2 separate regions of the Homo sapiens genome follow, and region 1 is linked to region 2. Evidence: fine-mapped expression QTL. A gene starts in region 2. The other region holds a variant in brackets. All regions are shown on one strand. Distances are from middle to middle. Region 1 overlaps ZNF200 (zinc finger protein 200). Region 2 holds the start of TIGD7 (tigger transposable element derived 7).

Region 1 (2,905 bases), 85 kb after region 2:
TTATATTCCTGTGAAAATTTTTCTAATTTTCTTCACTTGTTTTACACAATTTTGTTATTGTAGTTTTTTCCATTATATTTTTATAGTTGATTATTGCTTTTACATGGGAAAGTTATTTTTAATTATATATTTGTATAGTCATCTCACTGTTGTTAATTTTCAATAGTTTGTTGGTTTAGTTCTGTTAACTTTTGGTAAAATGACACCATCTACAAAGAATAGTTTTTGTTTCTTGCCTTCTGCCTATTGGTCTTTTTTGTTTTGTTTGTTGTTATTAACATGTAATTCTGAGGTTTCTTGTTTTGGCACAAAGCATTCTGAAAGAAGGACATTCTATGATACAGTTCAGTCCTGAATCGTAATTTAAAAACAACAAATCCTCCACAACAGAGAAAGGCCACAGAAAAACTGTCTTTACCAACATTGTATTTCAGGCCAACAGGAAGTACCCTGTAAAGCCAGCAAAGCGAACAAAACAGGCTGCCCACAACGTTATTCGCTTATTTGAAAGTCTGACCAGTGCACTAGGACTGGGATCCTGAACTGTGTTTCCAGAGTCGGCAGGCTGTTACCATGTGCAGTGGACCTGCCTGTGCACCCAGAAAAGTAGCTGCCAGGAAGTGAGTGGTGAGAGAGAGTCTCCACTCACTCTTTGGTACCCCTGCCCAGAGTCGGGTATTTTATCAGTCCTCATGCAGCCATGGCACAGTACCCGAGACAGTTAATTTTTTCTTTGAGACTGGCTCTGTTGATAAGGCTGGAGTGGGGTGATCTTGGCTCGCTGCAACCTCCCGCCTGCTAGGCTCAAGCGATCTTCCTGCCTCAACCTCTTGAGTAGCTTTTCGTTTAAGTGTAGGTGGGTGAAGCCACCACAACCCACACCATCTCATGTGTAGGGGACCTGCCCATGCATCCAGAAAAGTAGCTGCCAGGAAGTGAGTGGTGAGAGAGAGTCTCCACTCTCTCACTCTTTGGCAGCCCTGCCCAGAGTCGGGGGTTACATCAGTTCTCATGAAGCCATGGCACGGTACCTGAGACACTTTTTTCTTTAGTTGAGACTGGCTCTGTTGCTAAGGCTGGAGTGGGACGATCTTGGCTCACTGCAACCTCCACCTCCTAGGCTCAAACAATCCTCCTGCCTCAGCTTCCTGAGTAGCTTTTTGTTTTTTTAAGTGTAGGTGGGTGAAGCCACCACAACCCACACCATCTCCTGGACTGGGGAGGTGCCCACGGTCAGGGTTGCCGTCAATCAGCACCCAGTGTCCCAGAGGGCAGGACATGGGCCGCAGGGTTTCCTTCCGCAATAGTGAGGCTGGGTGGGAATGAGAGGAGCGCCCCGACCAGGACCAGGGGCCGCCCCCAAACACGAGAGCCCCTGGGAAGTTGTTGGATGAGTAAGTTCTGTTACCTAAGGAGCCTGATCACCAGTTAAGTTGAAAAAGTAAACAACAGTGAACAGTTTCCCAATATAGCGGTAGAGCGAGAGTTGGAAAATGTAAGAGACCAAAGATCCAATTCCAGTAGTAACTACAGAAAATA[A/G]GCCAGGCGCAGTGGCTCACACCTGTAATCCCAGCACTTTGGGAAGCCGAATCAGGAGGATGGCTTGAGGCCAGGAGTTCAAGACCAGCCTGGGCAACATAGTGAGACCCTGTCTACGAAAAAAAAAAAAAAAAAGATTTGGTTGAGTGCAGTGGCTCAACGCCTATAATCCCAGCACTTTGGGAGGCCAAGGCAGGTGGATCACCTGAGGTCAGGAGTTCAAGGCCAGCCTGGCCAACATGGTGAAACCCCATCTCTACTAATAATACAAAAAGTAGCCAGTTGCGGTGGCAGGCATCTGTAGTCCCAGCTACTCAGGAGGCTGAGGAAGGAGGATTGCTTGAACCCGGGAAGTGGAGTTGCAGTGAGCCGAGATTATGCCACTGCACTCTAGCCTGGGCTATAGAGTGAGATACCATTTCAAAAAACAATTATTTTTAAAATTTAAAAAACATTATCAAGACGGCATGGTGGCATGTGCGTGTAGTCCCAGCTACTTTGGAAGCTGAGGTGGGAGGATTCCTTGAATCCAGGAGTTAGAGACCAGCCTGAGCAACTTACTGAGACCACATCTTTTTTTTTTTTTTTTTTTTTTTTTTTTTTAAGAAACAGGGTCTCACTCTGTTGCGCAGACTGGAGTACAGAGCTGTGATCATAGCTCACTACAGCCCTGAACTCGTAGACTCAAGAGATCCTTCCGCCTAACTCTCCCAAGTATCTGGGACTACAGGGACATGCCACCTCACCCAGCTAATTTTTTTATTTTTATTTTTCTAGAAACGCGGTCTTGCTATGTTGTCCATGATGGCCTCAAACTCCTGGGCCCAAGTGATCCCCCTGCCTTGGCCTTCCAAAGCGCTGGGCTCATCTCTTTAAAAAAAAAAATCAGAGTAAATGGGAGGTTGACTCCAGCATGACAGTGTGAGAGTGCCTGTAGTCCCAGCTACTTGGGAGGCTGAGGCAGGAGAATCTCTTGAACCCACAGTGAGGGGAGATCCAGCCTGGGTGACAGAGCAAGACTCCATCTCAAAAAAAAAAAAAAAAGACAAGTGAATATAACTTCAAAGAAATGTGGACATCATTAAGTGCACCAAATACACACAATGGGAGTACCAGAAGAAGAGAGAAAGGAGAGGAAAAAATTTTGGAAAAATAATGGCTAAAAATTTCCCTAATTAATTAATTAATTAATTTTATTTTTTGAGACGGAGTCTCACTCTGTCGGTCAGGCTGGAGTGCAGTGACACGTTCTTGGCTCACTGCAACCTCCACCTCCCGAGTTCACGCCATTCTCCTGCTTCAGCCTCCCGAGTAGCTGGGACTACAGGCGCCCACCATCACGCCCAGCTAATTTTTTTGTATTTTT
Region 2 (2,905 bases):
GTGCGCGCCTGTAGTCCCAGCTACCCAGGAGGCTGAGGCAGGAAAATTGTTTGAACCCGGGAGGTGAAGGCTGCAGTGAGCTCAGACTGTGCCACGGCACTCCAGCCAGGGCAGCAAAACGAGATTCCATCTCCAAAAAAAAAAAAAAAAGTTATTTAAAACTTATGAACTGTTTATTTCTGGAGTTTTCCATTTAATATTTTTTGGATGGCAGTTGACAGCGGGTAAGTGAAACCCAGATACAGTGGGGGGAGGGGGTACTACAGAAAGTAAAAAAGTAGCCTATTTTCAGACAATGTCTCCCAAGTAAGCAACAAGATGCTCATCATTCTTTGCAACACACATAAAGGGTGCCATGCAGATGATTTATACGAATTTTGTTTTTTTTTTTGAGATGGAGTCTCGCCCTGTCACCCAGGCTGGAGTGCAGTGGCGTGATCTCAGCTCACTGCAACTTCCACCTCCCCGGTTGAAGCCATTCTCCTGCCTCAGCCTCCCGACTAGCTGGGATTACAGGCGCGTGCCACCATGCCCGGCTAATTTTTGTGTTTTTAGTAGAGACAGGGTTTCACCATCTTGGCCAGGGTGGTCTCGATCTCCTGACCTCGTGATCCACCCATCTTGGCCTCCCAAAGTGCTGGGATTACAGGCGTCAAACACCGCGCCAGGCCTATATGAATTTTTAACTGTGCTTACTTGATCTGGAGAAAATTACAGCTGACCTCTGTTTACAAAATATCAACTTGTAAAAAAGGATATTTTATTTACAAAATATCAAGTCGTATTTTCTTTCTGTCGCTGATGTTTATGAAATATCAACTCCAACAGGAGTTGGTGACGATGAAAGTGAAACTTTCTGCTGACTTTGTATTTCTCCAAAGGTCATTTAGACTTCTAAGGGGGGCTGAGGAGAGCCGTGAGCCTCACTTTTCCTGAAGTGAGCCAGCAGAAACGGCACCGAAATTCTGCCCAGGATGCCACCGGTATTCAAAGAAGTGGCCAGCTCCTTGCTGCCCACCCCGGTTCCAGAAGCAAAGAGACACTTCCTATGTTTTTGCATCAGTAGAAGCTGCTAGCCCTGAGGCTCAACCGACCGCATGACATCGGCCGGACACGGAAATGCCGGCGGAGGCGGGAAAGAGTCTGCGGGCGCAGCTGCAGGCACTGCTGCCCGCCAGCACTCGGATTCGCCACAGCCTGTGTCTGCGACAGGCGTGCCCGTGGGCACTGGGCAAGCGGGCAGTGTCCCAGCGAGCTTCAGCCGCGCCTCTGGGATACAGCTGCGAAAAGCGGGGAGAGAATGGTTTCTCGTGCCCGACGGTGGCCCCGCCTCAGGCTCCAGCCGCGCGGCCCGGAAGCGCCGCGGCCACCGCCTACGGAAAATGGCTGCCTCCCTGCGGCCGCCGCCGCTCCAGCGGCTCCAGGGTCGAAGCCATAGGGGAAGCCGCTTCTCGGTTACCTCGGCCAGCTTGGCTTCCGTGGAGGCCGCTCCTCGCTTTCTGAGGCTCAAACGCAAGCCACCGCCCGAAAGGCCGCCGATCTGAGGAGCGCAACCGCCAGCCCACCGCTGGCCTACCGCAGCCCTGTCCAGGTACAGAGCCAGAGCGCCGGCCGGAAGTGGAAGTGACGCTTTCCGAGGGTGGCGCAGGCCCGCCCTCTGGCTAAGGCGCCTGAGCCCGGCCTACTTCCTCGCCAGAGAAACTGCTGTCTTCCCCGGCGGTAGGGAAGGGTTAATGCCACCGAGTATCCAGACCCGCTGAAGCCTAGAGGGCCTTGTACCGGCTCACCGCGTGGCTGTCGCTGTCTCGTGTCCCCAGTGGGGGAGGCGTCGCACTGCCGCGTCTGTTCTGCGTGGCTGTCGGGCGGCGTTTGGTCCCGGGAGCCTCGCCGGGTAAGGGTCGCCTCCCAGCTGCGCGCGCCGCGTTCTCGGGCTTCCCGCGGCCCGGCCGGCCGTGCTCGAGCTGTTGCTGGGCTCGTCGCCGCCTCCTCGAGGAAGAGGCATTTTGTCCGGGTCGGGCCACTCGCTAGGTCAGAAACAGCGGCCCCCCGAGGGTTTTGTACCGTTTTCTAGGTCTCGTGACGCATTCCCCACAACTATTTTTTCTTGAGGTAGGTTTGAACCTGTGAAATAGGTTCTTTTTCTATCTCTCCTTGACAGAGAAACGGAGACCTAAGAAGTGACTTGCTCAGGGTCACATAGCTCAGCAGTGGCGGCCGCTAATCGGAAATAGCTCTCCTGTTGTGGTATCCTCTGCGTTTTCCACTCCAGTATTCTTCCCTGGAAAATGGGAACCTTGTTTTCATCTTATATCTCATGCAGCGCCTAACATAGTCACCTGGTAAGATAGGCATTCCACACATATTTACTGAATCATAGTTATAAGAATCTGAGTGTTTTGGGTGTTCAGTGATCTCTGAATTAATCCGTTTTTGTAATGTCAGTCTGTACCAGTTGAGGGATTATTTAATAAGTCCAGTATGAGTGGTTTCGGAATTACCAGTTTTTGTAACGTCAGCTTATACCAGTCAAGGGACTATTTATTAAGTCAGCTATGTGTAGCCAATATTGCAGAGTTGAGTAAGAAGTCTTTGTCCTTAAGCAATCTCTTGAAAGGACTGAGCAATTTCGTGAATATCAGTAACACAAGGGTAAGAATAGGACATAAACTGAATGCTGTGAGAACTCCAAGAAAATCCAAGTTGATTTGGGGTTGGGGGAAATTATAAAAGACCTTGAGGGATTTTGTCCACAGCAGGGAATGGAGACACTTTCCAGGCAGAGGGAAGGGTAGGAGTAAAGGCTTTAAAAGCTGGAAACATTAGACTGTGAGATCTTAGGTACGTTTTTACTGAGTTGGGCTGCATTTAGAGGAAGAGTTTTAAAAGTTAGAAAACGAGTTTATGT

The links.
Region 1: its variant is fine-mapped to the expression of TIGD7 in adrenal gland (GTEx, PIP 0.99).

The regions. Positions count from the first base shown.
Region 1 is chr16:3,219,656-3,222,560 of GRCh38, reverse strand. It overlaps ZNF200 (zinc finger protein 200), which reads left to right. Exons shown (of 5, transcript NM_198088.3): 5 at 1-236. Among named protein-coding and RNA genes, the nearest start is that of ZNF200, 14 kb to the left of the region's middle. The variant A/G (reference allele first, on the strand shown) is at 1,540.
Region 2 is chr16:3,304,198-3,307,102 of GRCh38, reverse strand. It overlaps TIGD7 (tigger transposable element derived 7), which reads left to right and starts at 1,673. Exons shown (of 2, transcript NM_033208.4): 1 at 1,673-1,891. ZNF75A (zinc finger protein 75A) reads right to left here and starts at 1,606. Exons shown (of 7, transcript NM_001302109.2): 1 at 1,460-1,606. RefSeq lists an enhancer at 1,583-2,112.